Linked DNA regions of Homo sapiens: region 2 is linked to region 1. The links come from fine-mapping of genetic effects on gene expression. Tissue or cell type: whole blood. Region 1 holds a variant in brackets; the other region holds the start of a gene. All regions are shown on one strand. Distances are from middle to middle.

What was found. PIP is the estimated chance that this variant, and not a neighbour inherited with it, causes the effect.
Region 2: NHSL2 starts here. The variant in region 1 is fine-mapped to the expression of NHSL2 in whole blood (TOPMed, PIP 0.96).

Annotation. Positions count from the first base shown.
Region 1 is chrX:72,048,446-72,056,550 of GRCh38, reverse strand. The region is part of intron 1 of NHSL2 (NHS like 2); the gene reads right to left. Among named protein-coding and RNA genes, the nearest start is that of RTL5, 79 kb to the left of the region's middle. The variant G/T (reference allele first, on the strand shown) is at 4,725.
Region 2 is chrX:71,905,867-71,913,971 of GRCh38, reverse strand. NHSL2 (NHS like 2) reads right to left here and starts at 3,127. Exons shown (of 8, transcript NM_001013627.3): 1 at 2,605-3,127. The coding sequence starts at 2,884.

The DNA of each region.
Region 1 (8,105 bases):
CAGACGTTAAATAAGCACACAAATACATATATTATGAAGCAATAACAACTGCAATGAATAAAGGGTACAGGGTGCTGAGAGAGTATATTGGTGAGGCTTGATATAGTCTAGGAGGCCTGTTGGTAAATAGACACTTCCATCTTTGTTTTCAACAGCTGCATAATGCCCCACTATATGGATGCTCCATAGTTTACATAACCAGTCACCTACTGTAGGGAACACAGAATTTTCTCCCTTTCTCTTTACATCATAACCAATGTTTTGATGCACATCTTTGTACATGCATCTCTAGCACTCGTTTGATTATTCCCTTAGTATGCATTTCTAAGAGTAGAATTGCCACATCAAAGGATGTATACATTTTTAGGCCTTTTGAAACATATTGCCCAACTGTCCTGCAGAAAGGAGGTACTGATTTACATGGGAAAATGTCCGCTTTTAAAAAAAGGGTTAATGGTGGCCAAATCTAGGTGGTAATAATTCCGTAAAAAATTTTAAAGGCTGCATAGTATTCCATGGTTATTTACACGATTTTTTTCTATTTTGCCATTACAAAAAAAGCAATTTACTTATTTAACAACAACAATAACAAAAGTGGAAAGTTTTGATAAAAGAAACCACCTACCAAGGTTAGAATATGCTTTCATCTGTTCAAGTAATATGCTAGGTGATAGGACTAAAAAGGTGACATCTTTTTTAGAATCTCCAGTAAAGAAGTAGATTTTTAGTCTCAAGGTTCGGAACATTTGCGTTTCTGTTAAGCAGTTGATTTGCTTTTATCTATGAATCTTATAACTGATCATACCTCCCTTTTTGTTATCTGCCATGAAAGGTTAAAGTCAAATTTGGGACCCACATTTATCAAGAGGGGACTTCCTGAAATTCACTTTCTATCACGACTTCTTCACAAGTTACCCTTGTTTTCTCTCTGCCTCATCTTCCTCCCTTACATCTAATTTAGGTTCTCTCCAAGTATAGGATGTATCTTATAAGCCACCTTAAACCCTTTTTGGAATAAGTCAAGGTGGAAATAATTTTTTACAAAAATTAAGCTAAATGCTCAGATCTCCCTCCAACACAGTCCTCAAGAGGCATAGGCAAGACACAAACAGAAAGATGCCTCAAGAAAACAACAAAAACCTAATTGGAGGTCAATCGATTTCTGGGCTACATGCGTCAAAGCTGAGGTCTTCAGCTTCCAAACACGCAAAGTAATTTAGCGCTCGCGTTCCCATGGCAACCGTGCCAGTGATGGAGAAGATGCAGCAAGCCCGGCCTGGCGGTTGCTGGGGAACTCGGGCTGTTGGCTGCGTGACTTTGCTCAAGTCTGAGTGTTTAGATGCGCAGGGACTTTCCATTAACTGGGAGCTCTGGATTCGGACCTAACTGAAAATGTAGTTGCTGAGGAGAGGTGAAAAGTGTACACTGGAAATGGAGTGACATCTAGGTAGCCTCCAATACTTGAAGTTAGTTAGCACTTTCCTTTTTCTCTTTCTCTCCCCGCTTGCTAAAGAAGGGGGTTAGGAAGCGGGAGACGGGACAACAGGCAAAGGGATCCACCCCAAGCTGTCCTTTTACAAAGGGGCTGAAAGAGTGACGGGGGAAAGGGTGATCTCATTAGCATATTTAAAGCTCCAGCCTAATGACTGCTTTGTGCCTCAACTGAAGAAAAATTGTGCTAACTGCAGGGGGAGGGGCATCATGGAGGCTAGAAAAGGGGATCCCAAAAGAACTCAAATGGGGTGAGGTCGATGAATGTCATCCTCGCCACTTGGGGAGAATATAGATGAGTATTTATTTGGTCTGGGAGGAGGCAAGACTTTCTAAGCATTAAAATCACAAAGGAAAATGTCAACATATTTGGCAGCATCATTTAAAAAAATGTTAGCACATCCCAAAGCACAACAAACCAAAAATCAAAGAGAAAATAGCAAATTGGGAAAGAAAAAGATATTTGCAGCATAGGACAGAAAAGGGTTAATATCTTTACTATATAAAGAGCTTTAAGTAACAAACTCTTTACCAATAAGTAAACAGACACACATATTTTACTTTTCTAATCAAGAAAAAACCAACTCTATTTCAGAAGAGAGAGAAAGAGTCCAGAAGAGCATGTCATTCTCTGAAAGGGAAGCTATTAAGAACGACAGAATGCGGATCAGCTCAGACAACAGCTAAAGTGGCCCAGGGAAGAGTTTGAAAATGTTCTGCTTATTGCACTGGAGAGATGGGAGTGGAGATTGGGGGGTTTCCTAAAGCTTACTGCACCAATCAAAAAGCAATCATTTTGGAACAACCTGTCAAAATAGTACTGGAACCTGTCATTGACATATGCAAGCAGGAAGGCTCTACTTCCCACCCACACAGTGTAGACAGAGGAGTATGGCAGAGAAAGCGTTGCAGCATCTCCTTGGAAGAGAGGGCTATGGAGTATCCCTGGCACCTACAGCAGAGCTGGCCCAGAGTAAGCAGGTGTTCAGTGAGGCCTTGTTGAAGAGTTGTGAGGTTCTCTTCATGATGGCCAAGTCCTTAGGTGGAGTCCTTGGTTCCAAGCAGCCTTCAAGGAACTCACCCACTCTCTTTGAGACCCCACCAAGGAGCTCGCTGTGAGTGTCTATCCCAAGCTCAGGTTCTGGGAAGGAGAAGCAGACTTATTCTGTGTTGCTGTAGATGGTAGGAGTATTAATTTCTTCCACAAACATTGCTTGAGGCCAATTATGTGCTGGGAATGAGATGGGGGTGGAGGAGTGGACCCCAAAATGAGGAGCGTATTACAAACAGTTCCCAGTCTATTGGGAGAGACAACATGTAACTTATGAAAGAAGCAGCTTTTGAGATGGGCTTTGAAGGTTGGGTAGGAGGTCAGCACGCAGAGATGTAGTCAGACAGCATACAAAAATTGGAACTGAAGGCAAAGACATGTGCATGGCGAGATGATCCCTCGGGCCCTTTTCTGTTCTGCCAGTCTACGATTCTGAACTTCAGCCTCATTCTCAGCAATAATATCTCTGTGAAATCATGGATTTCACAGGTATGCTGGTTATACTTTTCTCTCATATATAGAAAAATAAATATGCAAGCATTCAAGTAAAAAGAAAAGTTCATCTGTACCTCTTGAAGGCATTTCAATTAGTGTGGTGGAGTTTACACAGTTCTAGGAAACTGTGCCAGAGGTCATAAGGAGTTATGGAGCGTCCTGTCCCCAGAATGGAGAAGATTGGAGGTGGAGAGAATGGAGACAGGCAAACTGGTCAGGCGACTGTCGCAAGAATCCAGTGAGAGGATGGGCCCCCTAACTTCTCAGAAGAAATGGCTGAGAAGCCTGGGGTGCGCGGGGTGAAGCAGCTGATTAGACCAGAGAGAAGGCTCCTAATTCCTGGTTTGCTGCACTCAAATCCTAACGAGGCAAGGCTCACATTCAATTCTGGTCATTATGTTCTTCTCAACATTGTTTTCCATTTCCCTTACCCAATTTAGGATGTATTGTTATGGCTGTTTAAATAAGGTGCCAATCCGACTGGGCAAGAGCAGGAAATGTTTCCACACAGGAAAGACTCTCATCAGATCCCTATTGCCTTTTGCAAATGGAAATCAAGCCTCCTTCTACAGAGGGCATGAGGGCTGAGTCACAGCTGCACCGTTAACATATTAGTAACACAGAAAATCCTCCTTTTCTGTTAGCAGCTTGGCCAGAGAATGTCTACAGAGGGGCTGGGGGGAGCAGAGGGTGAAGAAAGGGGTGGAGAGAGGGATGGCTCAGGAGAGGCCCCCACCTACCCTTTTCATTTGCAACCTGGAGGGGGTCTTCCCTTCCCAAACACAGGAAGATGACTCATTTAAAAACCACCAGGGTGGTCAGCCTAAGTTGGATAGACCAGGCGAGAGTGTCGTGTGCTCCTGGAGGAATGAGAGGGACATGGGGGAAGCTGGACTGGAAGAGGAAGGAATGGGGAGGACTGCAATGTAGCCAGGTCCTTACTCCATCTCCTCCCTCATCCCCAAGCCCATCTCTTTCAGTTGAGACCCTTTGCCTTGTTCCAGAAATCATGTGGCCTCCCAGGCAACTCCCAGGGCGGTTGGCCTGAAGGTCACAGGCTCCTGGCCTCTTGGCACCTCTGTGACTTATCTGAAATATGGTTCTCCTCCTTCAACTGTCCAAGACTTTTAATGCCCGACCTGCCATGCAAGCAAGCTCGCCCTGAGGCCCCTAGTTGGTGCCAGGCACTGGGGACAGAAACTAGGAATTGAGCATCCAGTCAGACAGGTGTGCCTCGGAGGACTGAGGAGGGCAACTTTCTCAGAGGATGATAACCACGCATGTCACCCTTCACCCCATCACATTGGAAGTGCCACAAAGCCAGGAGCCTCATCTGGCTCAGCCACCACTCAGCACCTAGTGCAGAGTAGGTATGTAATACACATTTGTTTAGTTTGTTGAAGGAATTCTAAGCAACAAAGGAAAACGAGATCCATTTTGGTTACACTTACTTTCCAAGCAAAAGAGTCAAGAGGCTTTATGTCTGATTTGTATAAGCTGCTGGGATAAATACTATAATAGAGAAATAAATGCTATATAAAGTACAGTGGGAGCTGAGAGGGGGACTCTGCCTGGAGTTATCTGGAGAGGCTTCCAAGAAAGCTGTCATTGAGGCAAGTTGTGAGAAATGAATGAGGTTTTCCTAGGTGGAAGTGAACACTGAGACTAGGTGTAGAGAATGGTGGCA[G/T]GACCAGAGGTGTGCAGGCAACAGGTGGGGACATGTTGGAGAGAGACCCGCAAGTGGAAGAATCTGGAGGAACCAAAGACTTCCTGAGTGTGTGCTGAGGGCAGGCAGCAGGAGATGATGTTGGAAAGGTTGCCTGGATCCATCTGTGGAGGGCCTTAAATTCCAGCCAGAGGAGTAGATCGGGAACATGTTGTGGAGAAGGAAACCTTAAATAGGGTTGATCTGGCAGTGAGGTAGGAGAAGCAAGAGGAAGGAGGGCTGGATAGGAGATGATCACCTGGTATGACAGTGTCTAGGAAACTCGGTCACTGTGAGAACAGAGTGGGAGGGCCTAGGGTGAAATGTTGATGGGGCTGTAGAGAAACAGATTCTCTCAGATATTTCTGGCAGAACTGTGCATCGGTATAGCCATCTGAAAGAGCGATTTTGCAATATCTACAGATACCCCTCAACTCAGCAATTTGACTTCTTTCTAGGTACATACAACTGAAAATTTCTGTACATGCATGGGGAAATATCTACAAGAATGTTCATTGTAACATAGTTGGTAATGGTAAAAAATAGAAATAATCTAAGTGTCTATCAGTAGTGGATTAAGAAATCAATTTTATTATTCATCTGATGGAATACTATATAGCAGTTAACATGAACAAACTACATCTATGGGTGTAAAAGGGACAGATACCAAAAAACATAACACTGAGTGAAGAAAGCACATTTTAGAGTTACTTCATGTAGTATAATAGCACTTATGACAAATTTTAAAAGTGCAAAACCAAATAGTACATACCATTTATGGATGCATAAACATAGCCTGGATTTGCATCACAGCCCAGACAATAAAAAATAGGACTGAGGAGGAGAATGCAGGGACGTCGGTGGCATCTGTAACGTGGTTTTGGTTTGGTTTGGTTTTTGTTTTGTTTTTTTTTTTTTGATAGATGGAGTCTTGCTCTGTCACCCAGGCTGGAGTACAGTGACGCAACCTCAGCTCACTGCAATCTCTGCCTCCCGGGTTCAAGCAATTCTCCTGCCTCAGCCTCCTGAGTAGCTGGGATTACAGGCGTGTGACACCACACCTAACTTTTGTATTTTAGTAGAGACAGGGTTTCGCTATATTGGCCAGGCTGGTTTCAAACTCCTCACCTCAAGTGATCCACTCACCTCAGGCTCCCAAAGTGCTGGGATTATAGGCATGAGCCACCAGGCCTGGACTGTAATGTTTTCTTTTGCTAGAAAAAGTTGCTGGCAAACATGACGCAAATGTTAACATTTGTTCATTTTGGGTGGTTCATATGCATGTTTATCATAGGCATTTGCTACATTATCTTCTGACATTTTTCCTTAGTGTTTTTTAAGCAAAAAAGAAAAAAGGAAAAAAGGGGAGGAATGAAAGAGACAGAGCCGGCCACTACCTCATCTAGCAAATAGAAGCCTACAGACACTTACTGAAGGACAACACAGCCACAATCAAGAAAAATAACAGGAAAAATGACCCCACAGCTCCTAATAAATGCTATGTTTCAGAGCCTGGGCTCATTGCCACCCTTGCCCCTACCCGCCTTTGCTGGCTGTCAGTCAAAAAAACAATAAATAGTACACGAAAGTGGATCCAAGGTGGAGAACAATGATTTGGAACTCTTGCCAGACCCGGATGCAAAGGCACTTGGAGAGCAAAATTTACACATATGTTCCCCATGTGAGAAACAGTTCATCCCTGCAGGGTGTCTAAGTACCACGAGGCCTTCTGGAGGGAGAGAGAGGAGGAGGGTTTTCAGGGCATCAGACCAAGAGAGAAGAATGGTGAAATCGAAGGGAACATAACCTACCAAAACCAGAACTATAACTACAACTAGAAGCTAGTTATAGCTAGAGGATTTATTTATGCTTGTTTTGTGAATTGTTGTGTCACCAAAGCCTTGAACAGTGTTTGATACATACTAGATGCTCAGTAAACATGTGTAAGTGAAAGGGAACAGTGAGTGACACGAGGTGGATGGGAGGAGCCTTGAGCGTTCCCAGCTCTTCCTCATCTTGATTGCTTAAGTGACCAGATTTCAGGTGTGCCAAAGCAGGCACTCACAATGTTTTCTAGATAATTTCTATCATTGCCTGAGGTAAGAACCGGGGGCCTGGATTGAGACACTGGCAGTAAAAGGGTGATGGAGTTATAGAGGAGTGAGGCTCCAGGAAGAATAAAGAGTCAGGAGGCTTAGGCAAGACATGCCCCTAAAACATGAAAATCTCATGAGTAGGAACAGGTATGAGGGGGTTTGGGGAAGCAAAATGGACACCAGAGAGAATAAAGAAGGGAATTGGGGGGAGTCTCACCCACTCCGGGCACTGGGAATTCATAAGGTGCCTCCTCCTGCTAGATGTACAGCTTGGAGAGCTGCAATGCCTTTGAGAGAATTAGGAAAAAGTGGCCCCAGGATAAAGGTCTTGACTATTGGATTGTCCCCACTCACTTGGGTGAGCTTGCGCAGGGCACAACCTGCAGAACCACACACCGAGGCCCTGGCCCCCAGATCCGCATTCTGGGCCACCAGGTTCTTTCTAGTCTCTCATCATTCTGCAGCCCCTCGCCACCTGCTGGGAGCACTCTGTTATCACTCTGGCTGCCATCCCTGCTTCATAGCCCCTGCCAGTCCACTTTGCCCTGGATCACAGCAGGGCCTTCCCTGGCAAGAAGCCAACAGACAGCAACAAGTTCTCAGGTGAATTTTGAATCCTCCTCCTCCTCCTCCCCTCCTCCTCCTCCTCCTGCTCCTCTTCTTCTTCTTCTTCCTCTTCCTCTTCCTCTTCCTCTTCCTCTTCTTCTTCTTCTTCTTCTTCTTCTCCTCCTTCTTCTCCTCCTTCTTCCTCATTTTTACAGACAGGGGCAAGCATAACTCACTATAACTTTGAACTCCTGGCCTCTAGAAATCCTCCTGTCTCAGCCTCCTGAGTAGCTGACATTACAAGCATGAGCCACTGTGCCTGGCCTTGAATATTATTCTGTGTGCAAAGACTCTGTGTTCTAATCAGGAACATTTCGACTGCTTCAGACAGGGAGGCACACGCTTTTCTACCTTCCTGAAACAGGTCGAGTAAAGTCCAAGAAGCCTGAAGCCAGAAACAAGCTGCTGCCCCGCCCTGGTGTTGCCTACAGGAAATATTGACAACATTTCTCCTGTCACCATGGAGGAGAAATGCCCTCTAACCCCAACTCCAGCATCCCAGAGAGAGTTTTTGAGTCTGCTGGGCTGGGACACATGCAAACAGTGGGGATAGAGCATCAGCACTCTCCTCAGGACCCCAGTGGCATTATGTCACCTTTTCTCAAGCAGGAGAATGCAGCCTCTTGAATTCCGAGAAAGTGGTGGCCATTGGACAGGAGCT
Region 2 (8,105 bases), 140 kb after region 1:
TAGCCTAGCCCAGTCCACCCCTGTAACCTTGAAGATGGTGGGGGCATGACCCATGATTGTGATTGTGTAGAGAAGCACCTTCAACTTCTTCAGCATCCACTTTCTCCTCCTCTATCTCGCTCCTCCTCTCTCTGTCCTCCCCTGCTGCTTCTCAGGGCCCCAGCCCAGCCTGCAGGCTATAGGCCAGTCTGACTTGCCACTACTCAGTCAGTGGCAGCCAAGTTGTCACTGCAGGGAGGCTATATACTGCTGGCCTGTCAGCTGTCATTCACTCTGGCCATGTTGCTTTCCAACCTTCCTCCCACCTTCCCAGGTTTCTCCTGCCCCATGGTCAAAATAAATAGCTAGAGGAAGAATCTGAGGGCAATCCAGACAGATGGAGGATATGCAGGGTAAAATGCTGACCCCCAGCAAAATGGTCAGTAAGGGAGTGGGAATCCTAGGAGGAAAACGCATAGGGAAGAAAAAAGGGCAAGACATGACAATGTTCATTTATTTACTTACTTACGGTCAAAATCTAATATTCGGCTTGCTAAACACCCTGTTGAAGCTTATGCCTGAGCGACAAGGGAGTGGCCAGATGGTGCACTGATTACGCTCCCCAACTCTCTTTGCATTTGGCACTTATGTTCAGACCATTGCTGAGAAGGCCTAATTTCAGTGCTACCCAATTACAGCTCCTGAAGAGAAAAGTGTGCACTGAGAACTTCAAGGGGAGTCTAGGGTAGGGCATTAGACCAGAAAATGGAAAATCAGACCTTTTCACCAACTTACAGAAGGTAGCTGTGTTCCATTTATGCAGCAGTCCCTTGGGTGCCTCTGAGCCGTGGGACATGTACATTCTCAAAAGCAAGAGGCCACACCAGGGATGAGAGATGGCCACTCTTCCTGCTCTTGAAAACTGCCAAGAAGCCAAACCAGTGGTAATTTAACTTAACAATTGTTCCTCTCCATTGCAAGCTATCCATTGCATAAAGCCATCTCCTTCTAACCTGGCAGATCACCGGAGAGGGTTAGGTCCCAAAGGTGACTTGGTGAAGCCCTGCCTTCCCTCCCACAGAAAGGGCTTGCTAATTCAGTGGACAGGAAGGTAGAGTTGAAAAAACTGTCCTTAACTTACCCTACTGAACTCAGTAGGTGGCTCTCTGCAAACTGTGTAGGGATTTTGAAAACTACTCCTCAAGCTGACTTATCAAATTTCTCCTAGACTAATCCTGTAATCAGTGGGACCCCAGCAAAAAACTGAGCCCCTGCCATGCAGAGGCTCCTGGTCCAACGTCTACATTCCATCTGGCAGTCATCTGTGGCTTCCACCTTTCTTTTCCAATAGGACTCAGTTCATTTATCTCCACCAGAGACCTCTGCCATCTACCTCAGAGGTCAGAGACCTTTATGAAGAGAGGTGCCAGGGCCTGACTCCAGTCCTTCTGGAAGGGGTGGGGATGGGGTGGGGTCTGCAATGAAGAGGGGCTGGCCCAGGCAATTCTTTCCCAAGTTAGCTGGAAGCTTGCACTCAGAAATCAGCCAGCAGTCATCTTCTGCCCCCATTGGAAACTTTCTGGCCACACTGCTCCTTCTCTCCCCAGCTTTCTGGAGGAACCGATTGGCCCTGGTACCTGGCATGCCCCAGCTGTAGTCAGCATTTCCAGCCTACTCAGTCCCCTTGCTTTCAGCAGAAGTCCCACACTCTCAGGGGCACTGCATTTCCACAGACAGAGGATTCCCCGTGTAAAGTGCTGGGATCCAAAACAGTAAAGGACAAGGGCTCGCGTAGCCCCCCTACCCTCTCACACGTCCCGCGTGCTCAGTGAGGGCACCACTGGAACCTGGTTTCTCAGGCATGGCTGATTCCTAAAGTGAATGCGCTTCAGGAAACTGATGATAGTTTCTTTAAATGATTCTCTCCAGCAAATAACAGCCAGACCCTAGCGGTAGTGGGTAGGGGGTCAGCAAAGCCCCGGACATTCTCCCCTCCCCCCTCCCGGCCACTCCCCAGCACAGCGGCCCAAAACGTGCGGAGAGAAGCAAGCGGGAGGACGCTCAGACACTCCTGTGAGTGGGAGCCGCGTCCACGCTCCAGCGGGAAGTTGCACAGGTTTAAAGCCTGTAGGCACCACCGCCGGCTCCTGCCGCCGCGTAGGTTGCGGTCGGCTGCGGCGCGCTTTCTGAAGTGGCCGAGCTCCTAGACAGGAGCAAAGAAGCCAGCGGCTCGGCCATTTAGCTCCCGACGCGGCGATGAGGACGGCGCCGAGGGCCTGGGGCTAGGTGGGCGGGTAGGGGGAGTATCGCCCAAGCCGTCCTGGACCCAGCGCGTCCCCAGCCAAAACCCCAGGAGGCGGCCACCAACCCCAGGGTCGGGAGTCCCAAGGGCACGGGGCCACTCCGGACGGCGCGACCGGGTCCAAGAGCAGGAAGTTCCAGCGGTAGGGCGACCGTGGGGCGGAGGCGGGGGTCGGGGAAATGGGATCCCCTCACTCCCCGAATGGAGGGGAGGGGAGGGGCGGAGAGAGGCGGGGAGAGGGTGGGCACAGCGCTAAGCGCCGACCGGCGCCCCTAGAGGCGGGGTAGACGCGGGGCCGCGAGCCACCGGGGCGCCGTTTTTACCTAGCTCTTCCTCGTCCTCCTCCGGGCCAAGCAGGCGGCAGGGAAGGCGGCGGCGGAGGCGCACGGTGCGCCGGTACAGGCTGTCTGTGCGGCGCCCCAGGGCCAGCAGGTGCCCCTCGAGGTCCTCGAGCAGAGCCAACGAGTGGCCACAGAGGTCGGCGAGCTGCCGGAGCAGGCTGAGCGCTGCCAGGTGGCTCACGTCGCGGAGCTCCGCCAGCTGCTGCGGCGGGTTGCGCGGGCACAGGCGCTGGGGTACCACCGTGCGCCTGTAGAACGGCATCCCGGCCGCGGGCGCGGGCGCAGGGGACCAGTCTGGCGGCGCGGCGGGCTCACCCCGAGCAGCGCCCCTGGCCCGAGCGCCCCTGAGCGGCGGCCCCAGCTCCGGGTGTAGCAGGCCCCTGGGCGCGGGCCGGAGAGCGTGCGGGCGCCAAAGACGACGGGCGGGTAGGCGGGCTGACGGGTTCCTCGCCTAGAGCGCCGGCTCCCCCGGGGCTGCACACTCGCCGGAGCCACCAGTCCCTCTGACTCTGCTTCGCCGGGCTCCTCCTCCTCCTCCCCCCTCCTCCTCCTCTCTTTTCTCCTCCTCCTCCTCCTAGCTCTGCTACTTCGGGATCCCCCCACCCACCTTTTTTTTTTTTCTTCTTTTGCGGTCAGAGATTCGCAGATTAACGCTTGATCCGGGAGAGGGAGAAAGGGAAGTAGGAGTAAAAAGAGCGAGCTGGAGCGTGAAAGAAGGAATGTCTGCGTGAGGGGGGACGTAAGGTACGGTGTAGAATGTGTGCCCCGGTCCTCCTGAGGAGCTCCACTCCCAGTTCTGATGGTTAAAGTTATTTTTTGCTTTTTTTTTTAACTTAAACTTTTTCTTCATAATTACAAAAAAAAAAAAAAAAATTCAAGCACACCCGCGCCCACACCAGCGGGTAATCAGCGAAGACCGACCGAATAGTTTGACTTTATTGATCTAGATTTCCTTTCCCAAACGTACTCGGTGCCACGCACGGGCTAGACTAGGCTGTGAATACAACCTTCTAGCACCCAGGAGCTTGGAAATAAGGACCAAAAAACCAAATATCTTATTCGACTGTTCAAGAAGACAATGTCTCTAGGGAGTCCCACAGTGGCTGGACATTGTAAAGCCATTGGAGTGGATGAATAGAAACAAACCCATTTTCTGGAACAATAGACTTAATTCAGATAGAGGGACGCCACTCCATAGTTTATGCAAAAAGAGAGCCCAGGGACGCCTCCTTCTGGTAGGGTCCGCCAGCTGGGATAGGCTCTATCCCTGGCCAGGCTGGGCTGCTGGGATGCTCTCCGAAGAGGGTTACAGGAGCCGAGATGTGCTTTCAGTGCGGGCAACCCTGTGGTCACGGCCTGATTTCTCTCCATTCCAGAAGGCAGAAAAGAGGGGGCACATTATTGTCCTCAGAAAACCAGAGTACGTGAGCATATGTCCTCATGCACTTAGGACCTTTCCACTCAGAACGCTTATTTTCAACACACTGAGCTCCCATCTGACTCTCCTCTAACCCACTTCTTTGACTTTGGTGTACTTCGGTTTCTTCCTTCTCTTCATTCTCTTCTCATTTTTCCTCTTACAAATGTTCACATCCTTATAATCCTTTATAATCCATTAGCAAAACACTTTTTTTTTTAAGAGACAAGATCTACCACTGTCACCCTGGCTGGAGTGCAGTGGTGTGGTCACAGCTCACTGCAGCCTTGAATTCACTCTGGGCTCAGGGGATCCTCCGGTCTCAGCCTCCTGAGTAGCTAGGGCTATAGGCACGTGCCACCACTCCTGCTAATTTAGTTTTTATTTTTTGAAGAGACGGAATCTCCCTATGTTGCCCAGGCTGGCCTTAAACTCCTTGGCCCCAAGCAATCCTCCTGCCTCAGCCTCCCAAAGCACTGGGATTACAGGCATGAGCCACCACACTGGCCAGTAAAATACTTTGAACAGAATACCTGCATCTACATTAATGATTCTAAGCGTGGCCTGTTTTCATGCATTCCTTCAGATAATTAATTGTCCCTGAAGCAGTTCAAGAAGGTTCTACAACTAGTATATTTCAAAATTGCTAATAGATTCTAAATGTTCACACCACAGAAAAATGGTAAATATGTGAGGTAATGGATATGTTAACTAGTTTGATTTAATCATTCCACAATGTATTAATATATATACATCAAACCACATCGTGCCCCATAAATACATATAATTGTTTGTCAATTAAAAATAAAGTAAAAGCGTAATCCGATTTCCCTTTTCAGCATATAGTTGTTTCTTGTTTAGTAAATTAGAACATGGATATTAGAAAAGTTGGGTTCTGATTAAAATAAGAATCAACAAATGGGCAAAAGACTTGTACCCTTTCTGAAATGTAAAATCCAGTTGCAGAATAAAAACCCCAAATTCTCGATTTGGCAAACTCAAACCTGAGCCAAGAGAGCAACTGGGAGGAAGCAGGGACTTGGCTGGACTCTCCAGGGATACTTTTCCTTGACCTATGAGCTGTTTAGACTGATCTCTGCTCTGGAGAAGAAGAAATGAGGTACGAGCAGATTGAAGGAGACTGTGTGGTCAGAGCTTCACTGCCTGAGCACAGCAGGCCTGGACTGGGCCTGGTCGCTGAGCCTCCCTCACTACTCTGATTCCTGATGCTGATGAATCTTTCAGAGATCTATAATAACAAGCCCAATTCCAAGCAAACCAGCTTTGGCCCTACCCCCTTTCCCCCAGCCTAGTCTGCTCTCACTCCAGCCTCATCAATGAGATGGCCCTGGCTTTCGTCAAGGAAACATCAAGTATTTGCAATGGAGTCACTTCACAGCAGAGTCCCTCCTCCCTTGCCAGGACTAGAGTGGGTCTGCATGTATGATGGAAGAAGCCAAGGGAATATAAGTTGTCACCTTGCTTCTTATCCAGTCTCTTCCCAACAGGAAAGGTGAGACCTCGAATAAGGGGCTGCCTTGGGTTCAAGAGGTGAGCAGAGATGCAGAAAGCCTCAGAGGAAGGAGCGTAGGGAGCCAGGCTCTGGTATGTGGAGGGAAAGTTAGAGTTCTTGAAATACCGTGCTCCAGCCAAGCTGGCTGGGCAGGAAAGCAGCTAGGGTAAAGTGTCCTCTCCTGTGCTCCCACATCACCCTCTAGCACAGTATCTGGCACAGTGTACTGGAGGGTGATATGAACATCCTTGTTTAATAGTAATACTAATATTCCTTTGTAATAATATTGTCTCCCCCACATGATTGTTAGCTGCATGGCAGCAGGAATCACTTCTGTCTTGTTCACTGCTGTATGCCCAGTGCCAAGCCCAGTGACGGGTACACCACAGGTACTCTGAAAATGCCTGCTGAATGAATGAATGAATAAATGGAGGATTATAGGCAGAGCAAGATATGAAGAGCCTTACTAAAGGATTCAACTCAGCCGAAGGGGCTATAGAGAGTCGTTGTGGATTCTGGAGTAGAACATTGCCTGACACAAGGAAGGAAGTGCTTAAGAACTTTTCATGTGGAGGCCAAGGCTGCTACGCCCCACCTGCGCTCACATCTCCAGAGCCAAGTAGCCAGAAAGTGCTCTGTGAATTCAACATTTGCTTTGATTTGCCTATAAACCTTGGCATTTCACATTCAGAAGGAGAGAGAGAAAATGAAGGTGCAAAGAAGAGAAGGGGAGGCCCTTCACAGCCAAGCCAGACCTGAAAGTGCTGGATGCTTCCCACGCACCCACCAACTCCCATGCTCCAGGCCTGCAGCAGTTCATCCTGACACCAGATTTTGGAGTTGCACTCTGAGCCTAAGCCTAAGCCCCTGTGGAATCAGGTATGGATCCGACCTAGAAACAGAGACAGAAGGAGTAGCCAGAGAGGCAGGAGGAAATGGGAGCATTGACCACTCAAGACCAGTAAGGCCTCTGCTTTCCTTCCCATCTCCCAATCTGCCTTCCTAGCTGCTGCTAAGAACCTAGAATTTCAATAAAAATGAACTTGAAAGAATAAATAAGTGACACAGGATATGCCATTTCTCCTTCCTTGAGCTGGCAGTTTCCACAGCTGCAAAATGAAAATTTATGAGCAAACCTCATGTAACCTACCCAGCTTCCCAGTACAGCCCTCAGTCTTATTTCAGGATGAGAAACAAGAAAACTGCCTCCATGTTGCTACCTCTCAAATATGCCAGATAGTAGCAACTTGGTGGCTAAGAAGAGATGTTGGCTTTCTCTTTGATATTCCTCTACAGTCAATTGTTTTATCTAAGTTTTTTTTTTTTTTTTCTGGTTTTAGGGACAACGTCTTGCTATGTTGCCTGGACTGAACTCGAACTACCCAGCTCAAGCAATCCTCCCAAGTAGCTGGAACTACAGGGTCGCACTGTGTTTTATCTAAGTTTTAAGAATATATATTTCACCCCACACCCTCTTGCCATGAGACTCAATAAAAATATATATACAGGCAGTGGGGGTATGAAAAGGCTGCTCATTAATCCTAACTCTAACATTCTGTTCTCTGGTTCTAAGTGTCTGTACCAAGAGAAATTAACAAGAATTGGCAAATACTAGATTGAATCGACTCTCTTTTTAAATGTCATTTACCCTTTTTGGTATAAATGCATGGCTCTGCAGTTAAGAATACAATTAAACTCTCTCTCCTCAGATAGGCAGCCCAGTAGCCCAAAGAAATCGAACTGCCAGCTTTTCAGTCAGATAGAGCCTATAATTCAATTAACAATGCAGACAGTATCAAGGCTAATCAATGCTACACTCTGAAAAGAGAGGGATTTGTGGATTGAGTTTATCTTTATAATGATTATTAACAATTTATCAAAACATATAGAATTAGATAAATTATTAATGAAGCATGCAAAGTTAAAAAAAAAGAGTGGGTACATTGAGTGGATCAGTGCTACAAGATTTGAGAGGAAAGAGCATGCTTCTGCCCTAGAGGCAACAGAGGCTTCGCTGAGTGGGAGGGATGTAACCCCAGAGCTGGGCCTCCAAGGGTGGACTGGAAACTTACATGGCCATCAATCATCTCCTAGGGCAGTAAGCGTGTGAGCCAAAGACGGCTCAGGGTCCTAAAATAAATTCCTTTCAGTCCAGTCTCAATGCTTCACACACATGGGGCAAACCCTTCAAGAATTCCGTGAGGAAATAAACCTTTATTTCAAAAATAAACTTTGACGTTGTTTGAACTTTGACCCTGACTCTGAGCACAGGCTGAGACTTCGAAAAAAGACTTGTGGCGTTATGAAGGAAACTATGGGAGATTTCAGCAGAATGTGAACAAATTCTTTTTCAGTCCCTCATCTTCATGTCCTATGTAGATCCTCCTTCACCACCAATCCCTCACCCGCCACCCAACCGTCATGTTTTACCCGCTCTGTCTTGTTAGGATGAGACTATAATTAGGAACATTCGAATGTTGTTGCATTTAATAGGTAATTTTATCTTAACATGCTTACTTTACACAAGAAAAATCATATTAAGCCACTCCCTGA